Linked DNA regions of Homo sapiens: region 2 is linked to region 1. Evidence: fine-mapped expression QTL. A gene starts in region 1. The other region holds a variant in brackets. All regions are shown on one strand. Distances are from middle to middle.

Region 1 (10,395 bases):
TCACTGTATTAAAGCTTTTGTGTGTGATCTTTTAAATTCTGATAATGTATTGTAGCCCTCCTGCGTAGATCTGAGCTCAGAACAGTTTACACAGCTGTTCTTCCTGTGTCTTCACAACTTTTAACTGGATTTCATTTCAGGATTGGAAATACGTGGCTGTCATGCTGTGGTTGTGTACATCTTACTAACTCAGAATGCAAGATTCAGCAGGAAGATGATTTATTTCTGTCATCTGGATAGGTTGTTTTGCATCTGGGTTTTGCCAAACTTTGTCAGACAACATGAAAAAAAAGGAGGGAGGATGGTTCTTGTAGCAGTAGGAATTCAGCTATAGGAAAGTCAGCTGTAAGCTAATGTGGCATCTTATTTGCTTTACTTACATTTCTCCATTAAGAAGTATCCAGGGAAAGATTGGTAAGGGCCACATTTTTGTAAAACTAGGAAGATTTTCATTAGACTTTTTTTTTCTTTTATTTTTAAAAAAGTTTTAATTAAAAATTTTTTTTTAAATACAGATGGGGTCTCACTGTGTTGCCCAGGCTGGTCTTGAACTCCTGGACTCAAGCAATCCTCCCACCTCAGCCTCCCAAAGTGCTAGGATGACAGGCATGAGCCACCATGCCCAGCCATTTTTTTTTTTTTTGCCTTTTTTGTTTTGTTTTGTTTTTTGTTTTTTTAATTAAAAAAAAAAAATAGAGACAGGGTCTCAGATTTTCATTAGATTTGGAAACCAAGTTAGAATGTTGACTTTGGAGCCAGACGAACAGATACCAGTTAGCTAGGCATATGTTCTTCCAGGGTCTTTGGCTAGTTAACATTAGTCATTTGCTTCGTGAAAATTCAAGAACCTTTTCAGAGCCAAGTACCTGGATTACCTTCCCAATCAGGTAGAAATTAGACAGGGTCCACAGAAGTAGACACTTAATGCTGTGGTTCAATAAATACTTCCCCTAAATATTAAGTCTTCCCTGAGTCTCAGCAGGTTTGCATTCACACTGCTTAAGTAACTTCCAGAACCTGGAAGAGTCGAAAGAGCACCCCTAGGAAAGAGATGATTCCAAACAGCTTTCATTAACGGCATGTAGGCACAGGTCCCTTTCCCAAAAGTGGATTGTTAGTAGTAGTTCATTCAACCTTTGTTAAGGGGTAGCTTTCCAGAATGTGACATTGTCCTCAGAAAGATAGACATAGGCTTAAACATAATGGACATCCTAAATAGGAATTTTCAGATTGTTTTTGAAGTGAAAAGTGTTTTAATGTCTTTAAATGGAATTGCATAACTAATGGTATTTAAGTATTTTACATGTTGCTAATAACTTTGAATATGATTGTTGCAATTTTATGGAACCTGGGTCTATGGGACTGCTTTTTAAGCAGTTTAAAAAAGGTTTTCAAAGTTTAAAAGCCAATCTTAGCATGTATAATCCTTATGGGATTCTTAAGTTTTATCCTATCTTGTTTTTGCTCAAGAACGCTTTATCAGTGACGTTTGTTAGAATTTTGTTTTTTGTTTTTTTTTTTTAAATTGTTTTTGGGCTAGAAATGAGTTTCTCTAGTTTTATTTGTTCTCCCTGAGTTGGAGTTATGCAATGAATGGCATTTTTGTGGTAAAATACTAATCCTAAAATCTGTTAACTCACTGTTCATTTAAGTAGGGAATATCTGTATACATTAATGACTAGGTAAAACAGGAAATACATTTTGAATATACAGCCTAAAGGCAGGCAGTTACAGGGTTTTTGATTTCTCCGATTTTATAGGGTGCAAGTTCCCAGTGGCAGGATGCCCTGCTGTGTGACTGACTACACTGTGTCCTGAGCAGTGGTAATTTCAATCACCTCTCATCAGTTTGGCCAGCCCTACAACCACCATTCCTAGCCCTGTGTTGCTTGACAGGATACCTGTGCTTGAATGGACATAAGGAAAAGTCCTTACTTTCTCCCCAATTTACCTCTCAATCTTAGTTCTTCCAGAACACACTTCCCTTTCACAATGCAAATAAACTGAAAGTGAGATTTGATACATGGAATTTTGAGACCAACCAACTAACCTTACACATAATTTGAGGGATTCCTGGATTCTTCTAGTGATACTGAAAAGCACACTTGACTAAAGCATAGTGTTTTTTGTTTGTTATGGAAATACGGTATACGTTCATTTAAAAATAAATGGACATACAAATTGCATCTCCTTAGGAGATACATTTTATATACATTTCGGTGCGTTTTTTTCCAGTATGGATTTCTATTTGTTTCTCTCTTCCTCTTGTTTTTTCTGTGTCACTCTTGTATGTCCTCATATCTTTCATACCTCTTGTGTAGTCTCTAGAAGCAGAACACCTAAGTCCTGGGTCTGGATAATGAAACCCTCAGTCTCTGGGGCCTCTGAAAATAAGGAAGCATTGGAGCTATTGCCATGTTGAGTAATGGGCTTCCTAGAACTATTGTCATCTATCCTGCCAGTGTTTTATGTTGTAGCTGTTTTTCTTTGACAGGTGAGTTCCAGCTATGTTGTTAGTCATGATCCTGCCATTATTTTCTGTGTTCTGTAGGATGTCTCCAGGCTACTTAAACATATTTTATGAGTTTGCAATAAAATTGTTGAATCTTGTATGATCAAGTCACTCCTCTGCTCAGAAATCCACAGTGACTTCTTAGTAAGCCCCTACATTATATGCATACTTGTTTTTTTCTTAACTTTACTCCCACTTCTACCTAACAGGGACCTCAACTTAAGTCTCTTCAGTTCTTCAAGGCCTGGCCTTGTTCCTGATTCCTCAAAAAATCTTGACTCTAAGGCCTATTTTATTGTCTGTCTCTGAATCCCTATAAAGCTTCAAGTCTGTATGACATTCTTAACGCCAAATTATATATTGTCTTGTACTGTTCCTAGCTGGTACATGTATATTAGTCTTGTCTCCCTCATGAGAATGTAAGCTCCTTAAGGGCAGGGACCATGTCTTAATTTTTGTATCCACCACAGTGCCTAGCACAGTGCTTGGCACATGGGTGCTGAATAAATACCTTTGTTTATTGATCAGCAAAGTATTATCTGGTATTTTTAATTATAGAGGGATTAAAGTGTATGCATGCAAGCTTGAGCCTAGTTGCTGAAGCTTGTGGTTGTCTCTGAAAGTGGGATAGAGGGAAACTGAACATGATCAAGGGCAGTAATTTGGTGGTCGGAAAAGCAAAGGTGACCACCAGCTGTTATGGTCGTGATCAGACCAGTTAAGTCCACAGACCATCCCAGACAAGTTAAAAATGAAATGTGTCTGACACTTCGTCGTTTGAAGGAAGAACCAGGATATTCTCTGAATAGTTATTAGCTTGTCAGTATCTACATATGAAAGCTGGTGAACCCCAAGAGACTTCTTCAGGAGAAACAGCAGATTTCAGTCTACCAATGGGAGAAATGTGAGCAGCATGGCTTGATGCATATATAGGACTTAATTTTTCCACTCTTTGGTCCTCTTAGCTTTGAGGCTATAGAATAGCTGGATCATTAGGCCAGAGATTATGGATGAGTTACCTACAGATTTGTTACCTACCTATGTGCTTTGTTTTGACAGTACTTTTTTTTTTTTTAAGTTTAAACCTGTATTTAACATTGACAGATAAAAATCTTCACTTTTGGCTTTTCTTGAGAAAATTGGAAGATCTGGCAATAATAGGTCTACATGACAGCCATTGCCTAGAAATGATTAGGGGCTGCATGTAGAGGTGGAATGTGCTCCATCAAGAAATAAGTCCACCCATTTACATTACCTAAATTATTGTAATCATTTGGAACATCGGACTCCTACCTTAAGTTACTCTGGAAAGCACACTGGGAAAAAGGACTGGGATGTCTTTACTCAAAGTCCATAATTTGAGAGTTAACATTTATTATCCCTTGTAGTTTTGGGTTGCCTTTCTAAATATTTCAGGGTAGGAAGTGAAAATTTGTCAGTTTATTCTTAAACACAAATCTGCTGCTGGTTCAACGTGCACATTTTCAGTAATGCCTGGTCACCAAACTGTCAGCAACTAGAGGAAAATTATCTCCGACCTGGAGCAAAGGGGAGGTTTTTTGTTTTTAGACTAGCTCTCTCACGAATCACGGGAAGGGAGATATTTAACAGGGCGAGTTTCATGGAAACGAGCTTCAGAAGATACCCTTCACATGAGCTGAAGCTTACGGTGTATTCTCTGGAAATCACATTTCCTGTAAGAGCAAACAGCTACTTGGCATTCTCCGTGGTAAATTAGCAAATCATCTAAGAACTTTTAGGAGGGTAAGGAAGAACTAGTTATAATCCTACTTTTTTCTGCTGCAGTTCTGAATCTTCACTGAAGTGTCTGTGATGGGGTTGCACAGCCATGTAGAGAACTTGAGAGTCTGGCTGGAATGGTTGGGGGAAAGGAAAGATAAAAGACAATTTTAATTTCATTGAACTCCCTCCTTTCTCTGCTTGTATTACTGGAGGCGACCACATCCGTTGGAGGAGTCATTTTCTGAGTTAAATTCATGTATATCAGAATTGGTTTTCCTTTCTGTAACACAAGATGATCACAAAATTATGATTTGGGGACATCTGAATGACTAAGATGACTCAATTTCTTAATCTGTAAATTAGAGATAATCTAATAACCAGTATATACCACATAACTTATAAGTTGTTTAGAGGATTAGACAATGCACGTTTGCGCTTCTCATTGATTTTACAGAATTAAGTACTTTCCTTGAAGAGTGACTGTTATTTGGACAGAGAAGGGGAAAACGCGGGTTTACTGAAAAGAAGTAATGCTACTAGAACAAAACAATGGGCGGGGCGCGGTGGCTCACGCCTATAATCCCAGCACTTTGGGAGGCCGAGGCAGGCGGATCACCTGAGGTCGGGAGTTCAAGACCAGCCTGACCAACATGGAGAAACCCTGTCTCTACTAAAAATACAAAATTAGACGGGCCCCGGTGGCGCACGCCTGTAACCCCAGCTACTTGGGAGGCTGAGGCAGGAGAATCGCTTGAACCCAGGAGGCGGAGGTTGCAGTGTGAGCCGAGATCGCGCCATTGCACTCCAGCCTGGGCAACAAGAGCGAAACTCCATCTCAAAAAAAAAAAATAAAACAATGAGAAAAACCTCGTTAACCAAGACTACAGTCCCACGGAACCTTACATCCTGTGTTTCCCGGTTGTAGCTCCGGGCCTTTTCCTGGTTGTACCTCAGGCCCTGCTTTTCCCACCCCCAGGAAGTGAAAGCCTTCCCAAGCCCCCAAGGCATGCTGGGAGATGCAGTCCCTTTTTCTAAAGACTGGGGCGGCCGTGAGGTCATCGGTGGTCGCCGGGAGCCGCCAGCACGTGGCGGCGAGGAAGGGGCGGTGTGCTCCTGTTGTCTGCACCTGAGAGGGGGCAGGAGCTCTCGGCGCTTGCGCCTCCCGCCGCGGTGCCCTCCCGACATGCCGGAGGAGGCGGGCTTCCCGCCGGCCAAGAGATTCCGGCCAGGCTCTGGACCTCCGAGCCGCGCTGGGTCCTTCCCTCCCGGGAGGCAAGTGGTGATGCTGCTGACTGCGGGCAGCGGCGGCAGAGGAGGAGGAGGAGGCCGGAGGCAGCAGCCGCCCCTGGCCCAGCCCTCGGCCAGTCCCTACCCTGAAGCTGTGGAGCTGCAGCGCCGGAGTCTGCCCATCTTCCAAGCGCGGGGGCAACTGTTGGCCCAGCTCCGAAACCTGGACAACGCGGTCCTCATCGGTGAGTGGCCGCGCCGGCGGGCTCTTCCTTGCACTTCGTCCGTGGCTTAGCTAGAGCAGTTTTTCTTACATGCCTCTCAATCCCTTTCGTTCGTGGCTTCAACAAACCTGAATACCTTTTCTGGGCCAGACCTGGAGAGGGGCCTCGAAGAAGAGTCCGGCAGCCCTGCCCTGGAGGCGCTGGACAGCCCGGTGAGAGTGACCAACGTGTGTAGGCAAAGACTCACCTTCCGCGTAAAAGGGTAGAGAAACGTACCGGGGGCTTGCGGATCTTAGAAGAGTGGATCTGACCCGGTTTGTGAGGAGGCGGCTGGGGAGGTCGTGTGGGAGGGAGGGCATTCTAGGCAGGGGGGAAAGCCCGTTTGAGAGATGGGAACCTGAACACATTCCGGTCGAAAGGGAAGGTGTAGTTTCTGGTGCATGAAAAGAGGCAGAGTTGTGGGGCAGGGACTGATTTCATGGGGCTTATGATCCCCAACGTGTTAGAGGAGATACTGAAGGACGGAAAGGATGAGCAGCCAAAGAGAGGAAGGAGACCCATGAGTGCTGCTAGTCAAAGGAATAGAGAGTGAGCAGATGCAGCAGTCAAGTCCGGTTATACTGGACTTGGATGTGATGCCCACTGGATTTGGATGTGAGCTATTTGTAAGAGTTAAAGAAAAAGGAAAGAAACACGAAACGCGGCTGGCAGTTAAAGACAGCTTTTCTTTAGTTAAAACCTGAGAGGCGCTCCTGGCCGATTTCGGTCAGGAGCCCTTTCTCTTACAGACTAAGAGTATATATTGGTGTTAGGGTGAGGGGGCTTATCACAAGCTTGGAATGTTTATATGTGTGGAGAAGTTTTTGGCAGGGTTGGACTCTTTGGGAGCAGGGGATGTTATCTTGGGGCAGACATTTTTCCGGCCCGAGGGGGTTTATCTCCCGGCTGGCATATTCCCGGCTGGCATATTCCCGGCCAGAGTGGGGTTATCCCTTAACATGTCTCTGGTCGGGGAGGAGTTTGGAATGTTTCTGGCTGGAGATGTTATTTGTGGTTTATGGTCGTGCTGACCTTAGCCATTAGGCTGATACCTTTTGGATTTAGGCGGTTTTTTATTAAGGTGAACTTTTGAATGAGGGGCTTGTCCAAGATGGTGATGTTCCTGCTTTGTCAATCCAGACCCTATAGTTATAAAAAGGAGGAGGGACGGCATGTTCTTTCTGGCTACTTCCTGCAACGAGGGGATGGAGAGTTTCCTGGTCTCGGGTTGACTAGGAGCAATGCCGTCTGTAGATGTTTTTGGGTAGTTGTTTGTGAAATTGCCATGATCCTGTCAGTTAAAAATCTTTGAAAAAGATTAATTAGGCAGGGTAAGAACATTAGTTCCAGGCATATTATTAGGAGAGGGCCCAGGAATGGGATGACCCATGCTATGATTTTGTTTTCAAACCAAGAGTCCATTTGGTGGTTTTGGTACTCCCTTAGCTTTTTAGCCTTTTCTTTACGTTTTTTAGCAGCGCTTTTTACTAGGCCCGATTGGTTGATATAGAAAGAGGCGTGAGCCACCGCACCTGGCCCCCTCAAAACAATTATTTAACCTTTTAACGTAGGTAAAAATGTGCATTCTTATCCCTCCTGATAATCTTTTTACCGAAAGTGTACTTTACTTTCCTTACACACCTTGCACATAAAGTGTCTCTTCAATAGTTTTAAATACATGTTACACTGTTAACTTTTAGCAACCTTTACCTTTGTTGAAAACCTTGGTAAGTTCGGGATTTTAATTATGTGCTAGGTGTACAGCCTAGGACTTAGACAGAAGTGCAGTTAAGGTCTGGCTTATTTCAGCATTTAGCTCCATGTGTCCTAGGTTTTACCTAGCTGCAAAGCAGGCAAGTTCTACAGCTAAGAGTTATGGTGACATTTTATAAAGCATTCAGGAGGCCTAATCACTTTTAAATTGTAAAACATTTCTTGCATACATTTCCTCTCATAAAATTTTTCATGACTTTCACAGACTATCTCTGACACTATTGATCGTGGATCCATCCCATCGAGAGCTATTTCAACAAAGCTGTGTGGGTAACAGCTGATTTGTCATTGAGCTGAGGGCTGAAAGCAGGGGGAAGAGGCTTCTGTTTTGAGGAAAAAGGAGGGAAGCTGAGAGAAACTTTATGGATGCTGCTCGATTTAGGATGGGGTTATGTGTGGATGAATCCACCCATCCTCATAAGTTGAAAATATCCTAAGTTGGAAATGCATTTAATATGCCCAGCCTACTTTCAGTGTGCTCGGAACATGTACATTAGCCTATGGTTGGGTGATATTATCTAACATGAAACCTATTTTATAATAAAGTCTTGAATATTTCATGCAATTTATTGAATACCATACTGAAAGTGACAGTTGTGTGGGTACTCAAAAGTACAGTTTCTACTGTACGATTTTGACTTTTGCTCCATCCTGAAGTCAAACAGTTCTAAGACAGGGACCATCTGTATTCAGAGGTTGAGGGGAAGAACTCAGTAGGGAGGGAGGCAGAAGATAGAATCGAGCTAACAGAGCAAAGATCAGGAGGCATGGGGGACGGGGGAACTTGGCCACAAGGGCTAGATGCAGGGCTGGTCTGGAAGAGGAGGAAGGCTAAGAGGCTGCAGGGCTAGAGAACGGATGTAAGGATGGTGCACTGCAGAAGGGCTTCTAGGGGCAGTTAGGGAGAGACCACATTTTAGAACCCCACTTCTGTGAGACAGGTTCAGGAGCCCTGCTCAGAATGGGAGTCACTGGGCTTCAAGTGGGCCCTTGGGGAGGATGGAGACGAGACAGGCTGCAAAAACAAGAAAAAAGATCGATGGCAGTAGTGGTGCCTAGGTGCATTTCGGCTACACTATAAACTCAGGTTTGCTTCTGCACAGCCAGATTATAGGTGGAACATCCCAAATTTGAAAATCCGAAGTCAAGAATGGGCTCCAAGGAGCATTTCCTTTGAGTGTCATATCAGATGCTCAAAAAGTTTTGGATTTGGGAGCATTTAGGACTTCAGATTTTCACATTTAAAATGCTCAGCCAGTAAGTATAATGCAAATATTACAAAACTTGAAAGAATCCAAAGTTCAAAACACTTCTGGTTCCAAGCATTTTGTATTTTACTTTAGCAACGCTCTGTTGCCCTGGTATAGGAGCATGAAAGATAGAGACATGGATCAAAGTTTGGGGTTTTGCCTAGTGGATTCAGCAGGAAGATTGCAGAATAATCAAATCCTTTGTCTGATTCTTATCTGGGTCAGGAAGGATGAGCAGTCAGAGGGGGCTGACAGACTGACAGGGAAAAAAACCCACAAATCATGGGACTGGAGGACTTTTTGAAGTCAGAGAGGCCTGGTGGTAGCTAGAGGGAGGGGAAGGAAGCGCAGGTTTACTGAGTTCTTTGCTCTAATCAGGCACTGTTAAAGGAATTCACACAGGGTAGGAAGTAACATTTACTGCGTGCTTATTGTATGCAAAATACTCAAGTACACGAGAGGGACATTCAGAGCACTGCCCTCTGGGAGCTTCCCTTCTGGTGTTGGAGGAGGACGGACACATTTAAACGCTTCTGTACAACACAGGATGGTCAGTGCTGGAAGAGAGATGAACAAGGCACTACGGAGCCCAGAGGAGGGCCACTGTGCAGCCAGGGGAGCGTGTTTGAGGCCTAACTCATCTTAGAGTTTGCGAGGCAGGCAGTGTGAGGGCAGGTGTTCTGCCCATAGTGTGGGCAGAGGCAGAGGGTTTGAAGGGAGGCAGCAGGCTGGGGAGTGGCCAGGAGTTGAAGGCAGCAGTGCATGAATGGATGTCTCTTCATGTCAGTCAGTATGCAGAAATCTATGTAACGGTTGTATTTTATTTTATATTTTAACTATGTAAATTACCTTTTGAACATTTATATTGTTTCCAATTTTTTTCTGTCAGGAGCAAAATTGAATAAAATCTCTTTGAAGCTGTATCTTTATACACATGTTTACTTATTTTGTTAGAATCAATTTCTGCAAGTAGAATTGTGGGTCAAGGGATATAAACATTTTAAAGATTTAAAAAACATAATTTGACCACCTGAGAAACAATACCAATTAACCAGCTAATTTCACCAGCAGTATACATACCTGAATGCCCATTCTCCTGAGGCTTTACCAACACAGGGTATTTTATCTTTTACTTCTGACTTTGAGCTGTTTGTTTGGTGAAATTTATGTCAATTTGCTTTTTGTTGTTGTTGTTTTTCTAAGACAGGGTGTCATTCCGTTGCCCATGCTGGAGTGTAGTGGTGTGATCATGGCTCACTGCAGCCTCAACCTCTCAGGCTCAAGCAATATGCCCACCTCAGCCTTCAGAGTAGCTGGGACCACAGGCGTGCACCACCACGTCCAACTAATGTTTGTATTTTTTGTAGAGACGGCATCTCCCTATGTTGCCCAGGAGCAACTCCTGGGCTCAAGTGATCCTCCTCCCTTGGCCTCCCCACGTGCTAGGATTACAGGCATGAGCCACTGTGCCCAGCCGATTTGCATTTCTTTTTTTATTTTTATTATTTTTTTTGAGACAGTGTCTCACACTATCTCCCAGGCTGGCATGCAGTGGCACAATCATGGCTTACTGTAACCTTGAACTCCTGGGCCTCATGATCCTTCTGTCTCAGCCTCCCTAGTAGCT
Region 2 (10,395 bases), 27 kb after region 1:
AGGTGTGAGCCACTGTGCCCGGCCCACAAAGTTTTATATTAGCTTTTTATTCCCTCTTAGAGTACATGGTGTTTTAAAGAGCTGTCATGGTATATTTAATGCTCGCATGACACTCCACATTTTATGTCAGAGATAGAGGGTAGCGGAAGTGTTCTTTTGCTGTTGATCACTGAGACAGTGTCCGTGTGTTTGCTGCTGTCCTGAGTACTCTGTGGTGAATGTCTTGTGCCCCCTCAGTGCGGACGCTGCTGGGAGACAGTCACAGCCTGTACCCAGGCCTGTGTCTGATGCCAACGGCCTACGGTTGGCACTAGAGCTGTTTCTTCTCATAGTAGCCTATTGTATTCTGTCTTTCACACATTTTTTTAAACTGCTTTTGTATTTGAACAGTTTCCTGCCAGTCTGTCTCTTGGCTTCATAAGTTTTCTCAATTTATCATTGACAGTAGAAACGGTGCTTCTCTATTAGTTGTGAATTTAGGACCCTGTAGTGGCCAGGGATACCTCTCATTATATGTCAGGCACTGGTAAGGTCCTGAGACTTTACAGACATGCCTACTCAGTAACTAAGTAATAATCTAGATGGTGACCTGACGTACATACACTCATGCCAGGAGGCCATCAAATTAAAATAATCACTATCATTCATGAAGTGTTTGTTCAGCACTGTTCTGAGTACTTTTTATGTGGCTGCCTTATTTAAACTCCTCATTTCTTTTTTTTTCTTTTTCAACTCAGACCTTAACCCAAAGGATAAAATCCTCATTTCAACCTATAAGATTGATTCTTTTGTTATTCCCATTTTACAAATGATGAAACTAAGCCTAATCAGGTTAAATAATTTGCCCCAAATCACTCAGCCAGTGAGTGGTAAAGCTGATAGTCTGGAAGGAGAGACCACCAGTTAGCCTCTGGGGCTTCTTGGAGGTGGTGACAACTGAGCTAGATCTTGACAGATAAGGAGATAAAAGAGTATCTTCCAGGCCAGGTGTGGTGGCTGGCTTATGCCTCTAGTCCCAGCACTTTGGGAGGCCCAAGCAGGTGGATTGCTTGAGGCCAAGAGTTCGAAATCAGCCTGACCAACATGGTGAAACCCCATCTCTGCTAAAAATACAAAACTAAGCTGAGCGTGGTGGTGCATGCCTATAACCCCAGCTACTCAGGAGGCTGAGGCACAAAAATCGCTTGAACCCAGGAGGCAGAGGTTGCCAGCGAGCTGGGATTGTGCCACTGCACTCCAGCCTGGGCAACAGAGTGAGACCCTGTCTCTTAAAAAAAAGTATCTTCTTCAGGCATAGATCAGCTGATTGTCAACAACAGAAACCCTAGAGCCATCATAAAGGACAAAATAAAGATTCTTCCAAGGATGGAAAGGTATCTCTGAGAACCGATAGGCAGGAAATAGAGTCACAGGAACCAGAAAAAGCCTGCAGGAGCCAGGCCCGCCACTTTCTCTGGACCTGCTGCTTCTCTTGCTTTGAGTGCCCTCTGCGTGCCTCCTTCCCTTTTCTCACCTTTACCTCCGCATGGAAGTGATTTCTCTGCATGGCCCCTCCACTCAAGAGCCCAGCAGAGATTGACAAGTTTTCCAGTTTCAAACCTAAAAGATGCCTGGAAGAGAAAAGCTGGCCAGCTTAGGTCCAGCGTGTGTGTACCACTGGTTTGTTCATCTGTGCCCAGGGGCGTAGGTTACATGCCCCACTCATCAAGAGCAGTAGAACAAGGACATTGACTGGTGACTGACATTTCCTCTGATGAGACAGGCAGCATTTCTACTAAGAGTAGCAAATGTGAAGGCACAGATAGGAATCATGAAACGGGGCGAGGAAAGAGAAGGCAGCCAGCTATGGGGGACCATGGAGTGTCTAAAGAAGAGTGGTGAGGCCGGGCGCGGTGGCTCACGCCTGTAATCCCAGCACTTTGGGAGGCCAAGGCGGGCAGATCACTTGAGGTCAGGAGTTCAAGACCAGCCTGACCAAAATGGTGAAACCCCGTTTCTACTAAAAATACAAAAATTAGCCAGGCGTGGTGGCAGGCGCCTGTAATCCCAGCTACTTGGGAGGCTAGGGCAGGAGAATAGCTTGAACCTGGGAGGTGGAGGTTGCAATGAGCTGAGATTGCGCCATTGCACTCCAGCCTGGGTGACAGAGGGAGACTCAGCCTCAAAAAAAAAAAAAGAAAGAAAGAAAAAGAGCGGTGAGAGGAAAGACAGGCGAGCAGCTCAGGGTGGCTCCTTCGTGGCTTCACCACGGGAAGTTTGCATTGTTTTGCAAGGAGCAGTAGAGACATTGTTGAAGGTATTTGAGTGGATGAAGAGTGATTCGAGTTGTGCTTTAGGTAGATTAGCTTGGCAGCAGCAGGTGGGTGAATCGGAGTGAGGAGATGGTGAGATGGTCAAAGCGAGAGGGAAGGGCCTTTCCTTTCCGGGCCGTCCTGATGGAATTTAGGTGAGGGGTGGGTCACCCAACCTGCCTGTGGTCTGGTGGCTAATGTGAGCACCTCCCTCCCAGCCCTACCTTCACAGGCGGTAGTTTCCCTGTTTCTGGTCCGTGCTCCTCCAGCTGGGCCTTCTTCCCCTGACCTTGCTGATCCTTGGTGACCACCTCCGAATGTCAGAATCCACATCGTTAGGCTCACAATGTGGGCTGCTTTTGCCCCAGTGGGTCCAGTTGCCCCAACACGCTGTGTAGTGCTGACCAGTGTTTACGTGTGGGGTCGGCTCCATTCCTCGCTTTCTCCCGAAACAGATGTCAATGCCAATCGCATCATCCCGAGGAGACGTGGAGAGTGTCCGCCGCTGCCTGGCTCACAGCCTCTTCATGAGCACCGCCGAGCTTCAGCCAGATGGCACCTATGCCACCACGGACACCCACCAGCCAGTGGCCATCCACCCGTCGTCTGTCCTCTTCCACTGCAAGCCGGCCTGCGTCGTGTACACTGAGCTGCTCTACACCAACAAGTGCTACATGCGGGACCTCTGCGTCATAGATGCACAGTGGCTGTACGAGGCTGCCCCTGAGTACTTTAGGAGGAAGCTGAGAACCGCCAGAAACTGAGCCGCCCCAGGATGCCGCCAGAATCACTGGTCCCTGGGAGCTTGGACTACAGTTGTCCTTACAGCAGGCTTCCAGGTTGGCGCTTAGAGAAGCCTTGGAATCAGCTGAAGGTGCCTGACTTCCAGGAGCGTGAAAGCATCTTTGCTCAACTCCTGGGACTGAACCATATAGACATGGACATATCATTTGTACCTGGAAACCTCAAAATTATGCTTTTGGTTCTTACTGGGTGACTTTGACTTAATTTAACACCTGAGCCTCAGTTTTCTCATCTGCCAAATGGGAGTAATAATAATAATCCTTATAAAATTGGGTTCATAAAGTTTAGAGAAAAGGAATGGAAAGTACCCAGAACTATGCCTGGAGCACGCACGACACACGTACAGTGAGTTGGGAGCCGTTAGGCTGAATGTTACTGCTTGCCATATGATGTGAAGTACAGCAATATCCCAAGTTCTTGTGACTGAGGGAGATTTTCTGGAAGGGCCACAGGAGGTTGCGGAGCTTGGATGTTGCCCTTAGTTCTTGTTTAATGTCTCTCTGAATGCAGTTTTAAAATAGAAAACAAAACTGACTTCTGTAGAAGTTTCCAGAGGGAGGTGCTGTTATCTCGTACCTCCTGGGATGGCGATCCCTACTGAACGCTTGTGTCTCAGGGTGGACCACTCTGTGTCTGTCTCCAAGCAGAGACCAGTAAAGGAGCCTCCTGGTCCTCAGTGCGTGACCCTGTCAGTGCTTTCAGGAGACATGTAAGCTTCCTGGGTGAAGGTTGATTTGTACCTTCTGAATCCTGTCACGTGTAGACATGGGAAACTGACCTATCAGTGTTTTGTGTGTGTAGGTGACTCCCACATACACAGTTGCCATTTTTCTCTCTAACTGGGCACCAGTGAACATGCGGGCATGAGGAGTGACTGTGTACCATTTCAGCTGTTTCTTTTCGGGCAGTCCCCTGGTCAGAGGGGGTGGGGGTGGGGGAGGGGAGAGGGGTACCTAGAACCCAGAGAACATTGGCTTATGCCAGATACCACACCACATCTGGGCTTACATTCTTGTATCTTTTTTGGTGTGTGGGCGGGGGGGGTGGGGGGCAGTTCAGTGAAGTCTAGAAGACCTGCTGGACAAATTCTAAAAGAGCTAGAGCTGTAACACTTATTCTTGCATCTTATTAATTTTCTATGATATTTTTTCCTTCTTCGTAGGGACTTGGGACAATCTGGCTTTGCTGCTTTCTAACTGCTAGGCACCTCTCTCTAACCCTCATTGTCAGAGGGAATTGGAGGATATCCACAGTCTGTTCCTGTTCTGATATTCTGAGCAGAGAAAAGGCACTAACGGTTCCTCTTAGCTATTTAATTATCAGAAGCAAGTAATCTTTCCCCAGATAATATTTTGCCCTAGAAGAAGCCGTGATTTAGCTCTTTTATTGTGCTTACTTGGTCCAAATACATCTGTGGGGTGTTTTGTCATTTCTTAATGAATGAATCATAGTTATAACCAGGGGCCAAGCTGCCCAAGAGGCTCTTCAGAGATCATGGATGCTCTCTTTCTGGAAGCTGTGGCCTGATGGAGCAGCCCCATTCCAGGGTCCCATCTGTCCGGAGTTGTGTATGTCAAGTCCGGCTCAGTCTTTATTTCCAACACTAGCCGTGGTCCTGTGCAGTCAAGCTCTCAGCTAGTGTTTAGGGCTGTCTGTCAGAAATGGTTATACGTGGGCAAAAGAAGATCTGACAGCTCCTATATACCTTATCTTACTGAATTCTTAAACTTTGAACCAGTTCTTCCACTTACTGACTTGTTACCACTGCTGACTTTCTGAAAAGTTTTCCAGTTTTT[G/TTTTG]TTTTTTGTTTTTTGTTTTCCAGTAGGGGATTAGAATGTTTAGTCCTACTTAGTAAGAAAAATATTGTATTTTTAATCATTCATAGTGCTGGTAAAAAAAAAAAAAAAAAAAAAAAAATTGGGGGGTGGCCGGGCGCAGTGGCTCACACCTGTAATCCCAGCACTTTGGGAGGCCAAGGCGGGCGGATCACCTCATGCCTGTAATCCCAGCATTGGGATGGGAGGCTGAGGTGGGTGGATTGCTTGAGAAGTTCAAGACCAGCCTGGCCAACATGGCAAAACCCCGTCTCTACTAAAAATAGAAAACTTAGCTGGGCATGGTGGCACACGCCTGTAATCCCAGCTACCGGGGAGGCTGAGGCACAAGAATTGCTTGAACTTGGGAGGCAGAGTTTGTAGTGAGCCAAGATCACGCCACTGCATTCCAGCCTGGCCGACAGTGTGAGACGGTCTCAGAAAAAAAAAGAAAGAAAGAAAGAAAAAGAAAAAACTTGGGGTAATTTATGTCCAGCTTAAGTACCTGAACAGTTTCCGGAAATGTATATTTTTTTTCTGAGAGGCAAAGGATGTAAACAGCTTCTAAGTAGCTTTAATGTTTCTGTACAGAAATAAGTTTATCCCTGTAACATTGTGGTAGAGTTTTAATACAGTATTTAGTTTTTTATTGGGCTTTTTTAAAAAGTTAACTTTTAACATAGCTGCTCAGGGATTAAATCAGATTGGAAAACCCATTCTGACTCCACATACTGCTACAAAGAAATACATCGTTGTTTATATTGAGCTGCAGGAGATAGTACACTTTAAACTTAAGAAAGTTAAATGTTTCACAATAACATTGCAATATAATCTTCAGCTACTCTCTTTCCATTGGTAAAATCTCTGATGGTGTGATAACTCTTTGCCAACCTACGAAACCCATATCTGGAAGAATCACCAGCTCCCGTGAGCAGCTTCATGTAAATAGATGCACTCCAAGCAGATTGCATGCCTCAGGTGTTTGTCTTCTAGTAATCATGGAGTGTGCAACACCCAGAGTAACACTACAAGGGGCAGGACTGCAAACAGCAGGTCCTGGCTAAAAACCCTTAATGCTGCATTGCTGCCAGTTGTAAAGAGATGCCTGAATGGAGGCAAGTTCTGCCCTGTGGGTGAAACTGATGATGTACTGTACTGTCATATATAAATCCACTAAATCCAGCTACCAGGAACTGCCTGGAACTGTGGCCATGCATTTTTTTTTTTCTTTAAAGACCAGTGTGATAGTAGGCCATGCATCTGAGATACGATATTCCTTGGTAACTAGAGGGAGAAAAAAAAATCAAGTAGGTTCAGGCTTATGTTGTATTTTGAGAGTCTGGTTTTATTTGAACAGAAATAACTCTACAGAAAGCTCTTGTAAATAATGCTCAAATTTGCACCCGACGATCAAATCCATTAAAAATGAATCTTGTATATGATGTGTGTGGCTTGTTTCTTGCATCTCTTTTCCATTATTCATAGAAAATTATTTAGAAAATATTAAGTGTTAGTCTTACCATGAGTTAGTAAGACATACCTTCTTAGTAGCTTATATGTCCTGTATATCCTGGGAAGGTAGGATTGTTGATTTTTAATAAATCTGAACCCTGTCTTTGGGTTATATTAATTTACTGGAGAAACTCACAGAACTCAGGGAAACACATTTACCGGTTTCATACAAAAGATATGACCAAGGATACAGATAAGGAGATGAGCAGGGTGGGGAATGGGGAAGAAGCTCCCAGCCTCCATGCCGTCCCTGGACCACCACCCTCCAGGAACCTCCATGTATTTAGCTATCAGAGGCTCTCCAAACCCTGTCCTCGGGTTTTTATGGAAGCCTCTGGACTTATCTAAATGATATAAGCTGGCTTCTTGTCCCCAGAAAAATGATGTTCCATTAGAACTTGGATGCAAGGTTGGAGGTGCAGAGAGGGAAGGTCACAAAAATTAATCATGGATCCTGCCCTTGAGGATGTCACAGTCTGGTTGGGTTTAACCTGGTTAAAGCAGCAACGCTAGGAGGTTCCTGTTGAAAAGAGAATGAAGCATATGGGCTGGGTGCGCACAAGCATGAGTTCCGAGCCGGTGGAAAAAAAGGTTCTAGAAGGCCTCTTTCAGGAAAACCCTCAGACTTTCCTTTGCTCTCACAACACAACAATCAACACAGAAGACTTATGTGGCCAAAGGTTTGGGTTTTTCCCCTCCACACTAAGCAGCAGACACCAGCTGGGTGTCCTCCAATTCAATCCCAACAGTATCTACCTGGAGATAGTGTCAGATCCCATAGGTTGAGGGCTCAGTCCCCAAGACCGCCCCCACCTTCAGACAGCAATGGCAAGTCTGGGCCTCTGAAACTTCCGACCAACCCGCTTCAAGTTGGGGTTCCCACGACCCCCCTCTTTGGATTATGTTAACTCACTGGAGCAGTTCACAGAACTCAGGGAAACACATTCACCGGTTTCATATAAAGGATATGACCAAGGATACAGATGAGATGAGCAGGGTGGGGAATGGGGAAGAAGCTCCGAGGTTCCTTGCCTACCCTGGGCCACCACCCTCCAGGAACCTCTACGTATTCAGCTGTCAGAGGCTCTGCAAACCCTCTCCTCTTGGGTTTTTATGGAAGCTTCTGGACATCAGCATCCCTTCCCCCAGGGTATATGGTGGGACCTTCTCTGGGAAGGGACTTAAGACCCATAATCAGAAATGTGGAAGGAGATTAGAGTCCTGCTTTGGGGCAGGTAAAAGGAGGGCAGGAGAAGGGGAGAGTCTGTTTCCTGAGGCCTAACACACCCAACATTATCACAGAACATTGTAACAAGGGCTATAGGAGTTACGACCCAGGAACTGTGGATGAAAACCAATACATATATATATCATAACACCACAGCCTCCTAGAGGAAAGTGACCGTGGAAGGGTCTGGTGAGAGCTGGCGGGAGACAAGAGTGCATTCCACGCAGCCCAAAAGCCTTGCGTGCTTTGAGAACAGCAGGTGGAAAGTGGGTAAGCGGCCACTAGAGGGAATTAAACAGCTTCGGACAGCGGACTCGGCAGCGCAGCAAGAAAGCTCCGGAATCCGGATTCGAGGCTTCCCGGGCTGCACCGGAGTCTCCAGCAGAGGGCGCGATTCCGCCCGCTGGCCTTAGGTCGTCAGAGCGCCGGCGCGGGAAGCGCTTCCGGGCAGGGGCGGGGCTTCCGGCGGCGCCTCAGGTCGCGGGGCGCCTAGGCCTGGGTTGTCCTTTGCATCTGCACGTGTTCGCAGTCGTTTCCGCGATGCTGCCTCTGCTGCGCTGCGTGCCCCGTGTGCTGGGCTCCTCCGTCGCCGGCCTCCGCGCTGCCGCGCCCGCCTCGCCTTTCCGGCAGCTCCTGCAGCCGGCACCCCGGCTGTGCACCCGGCCCTTCGGGCTGCTCAGCGTGCGCGCAGGTTCCGAGCGGCGGCCGGGCCTCCTGCGGCCTCGCGGACCCTGCGCCTGTGGCTGTGGCTGCGGCTCGCTGCACACCGACGGTGAGGTTTAGCGGGCCGGGGGTGTGGTTTGCGTTCAACAGAGGGAAAACGTAGACCAGGAATAGGGCCTGCAACCGACCTCTGAGGTCTGGGACATTTTTCCATTGATTGGCAACCAGCGGGCTAAACCCACGTATGATCATATTTCCCCCACCTCCCCTATCCAGCAGTTTCGTTTTCTTTTGGTAGGGGGTGAATAAAATTAAATACTAGGGTACCTTTTTCCTTAGTCTTATTCTATCGAAAGTGGACCTTTGGGAAGGCCCATGGTCGTGGTTGAAAATAGCATAGTTATATCGTTTGGCAAGTGGAAGAGGATTGGAAATTCTCCTGGTTTATAGCGGAAAGTGGTAATGCGTTCATTGTTGGAAATCACTTTTCCAGAATCAGGCTCAGCTTCCTACTACTATTATGGTATTTTTACCGATAAGGAAACAGGCTTCTAGAGTAACCGTAATAGCAGAGAGATTAGAAACAGTCCAGGTTTCTGGCTGCAATAACCTGGGTAATAGTTTTATGTTTTAGACTAACTGGCTTTCCTTTTTATGTATCTGGATTTCTTTTCTAGGAGACAAAGCTTTTGTTGATTTCCTGAGTGATGAAATTAAGGAGGAAAGAAAAATTCAGAAGCATAAAACCCTCCCTAAGATGTCTGGAGGTTGGGAGCTGGAACTGAATGGGACAGAAGCGAAATTAGTGCGGAAAGTTGCCGGGGAAAAGTAAGTACTGGTCTGGGGATCCCAGGGCAGCAACTCCCTTAACCTTGCAGGACCCATCCTGGGTCATCCCCAGAAGAGCCTTGAGTTCAGGTGTGGATACTTTGATAAATGGGTTTCAAGAGAGTGAAGGATTCATTTGGACAACTTCGTAAGCCCCAGGCAGTCCATTCACCGAACACAAATTTGCTGTGGGCTGGTTACTAAGGAGACAAAAATGTAGTGCAAAAAAGTACTGGCAGAATCAGTTTGATCTCTGATTTACAGCCCTGATAAAATAGGACACTGCTCTCTAATGTTTAGTATGGGTGAAAATGAAAAATATGTAACTTCTATGTAACAGGATGGGGTTACACTGTAGTAAGGGCTGCCATCAGAGGTGGGGAGTTTGTGACCTAAGTCAGCTCCCCCATCATCTCCTAAACTGTTAAAGTGTTTACACTTTTCTGCATTATAGTCATCCATAATCTCATTACACAGATAAACATTTGGCATCTTCCAGGTTTTTAAATTGAGCCTGGGCGCGGTGGCTCACACCCATAATCCCAGCACTTTGGGACGGGCAGATCATGAGGTCAGGAGAAAATCCTGGCTAACACTAAAACCCTGGCTCTAGTAAAAATTAACCGGGTATGGTGGCACGTGCCTGTAGTCCCAGCTACTCGGGAGGCTGAGGCAGGGGAATCGCTTGAACCTGGGAGGTGGAGGTTGCAGTGAGTCGAGATCGCGCCACCGCGCTCCAGCCTGGGCAACAGAGCAAGACGCCATCTCAATAATAAATAAATAAATTGAATTTCCTTCATAATTGACCTTATGATGTGTATGTAATTTTTTTAAATCACAGCTTTTATGAGATTTAATTGAGATGGCATACGATTTACCCATTTATTGAAGTTTATTAAATTAAGTGGTTCTTAGTCCTCGCAGAATTATGCATCAGTTATCACTACCTAATTCTAGAACACTGTTGTCATCCCCAAACAATACCTATTAGCAGTCACTCATTATTCCTCCCTGTAGCCACCCCAGGTAATCACTAAGCTACTTTCTCTATGGGATTGCCTCTTTTGGACATTTCATATAAATGGAGTCATACAATTTGTAGCTTCCCCCCCCAACCCCACGGAGTCTTGCTCTGTCACCCAGGATGGAGTGCAGTGGTGCGATCTTGGCTCACTGCAACCTCTGCCTCCCAGGTTCTGACAATTCTCCTGCCTCAGCCTCCTTAGCTGGGATTACAGGCGTGCGTCCGGTTAATTTT

The links.
Region 2: its variant is fine-mapped to the expression of DHX33 in whole blood (INTERVAL, PIP above 0.99). The same link has a PIP of 0.9 or more in prefrontal cortex.

What each region holds. Positions count from the first base shown.
Region 1 is chr17:5,463,903-5,474,297 of GRCh38, reverse strand. DHX33 (DEAH-box helicase 33) reads left to right here and starts at 5,316. Exons shown (of 12, transcript NM_020162.4): 1 at 5,316-5,727. The coding sequence starts at 5,439. DERL2 (derlin 2) reads left to right here. Exons shown (of 7, transcript NM_016041.5): 7 at 1-3,044. It overlaps DHX33-DT (DHX33 divergent transcript), which reads right to left and starts at 5,206. Exons shown (of 3, transcript NR_135644.1): 1 at 5,159-5,206; 2 at 4,304-4,384; 3 at 3,938-4,206. RefSeq lists enhancers at 5,223-5,292, 5,673-5,892, 5,682-6,264.
Region 2 is chr17:5,436,865-5,447,259 of GRCh38, reverse strand. C1QBP (complement C1q binding protein) reads left to right here and starts at 8,105. Exons shown (of 6, transcript NM_001212.4): 1 at 8,105-8,418; 2 at 8,987-9,137. The coding sequence starts at 8,187. DHX33 (DEAH-box helicase 33) reads left to right here. Exons shown (of 12, transcript NM_020162.4): 12 at 2,747-6,343. The coding sequence ends at 3,055. RefSeq lists an enhancer at 7,709-7,888 and silencers at 7,948-8,130, 8,109-8,278, 8,389-8,438. The variant G/TTTTG (reference allele first, on the strand shown) is at 4,892.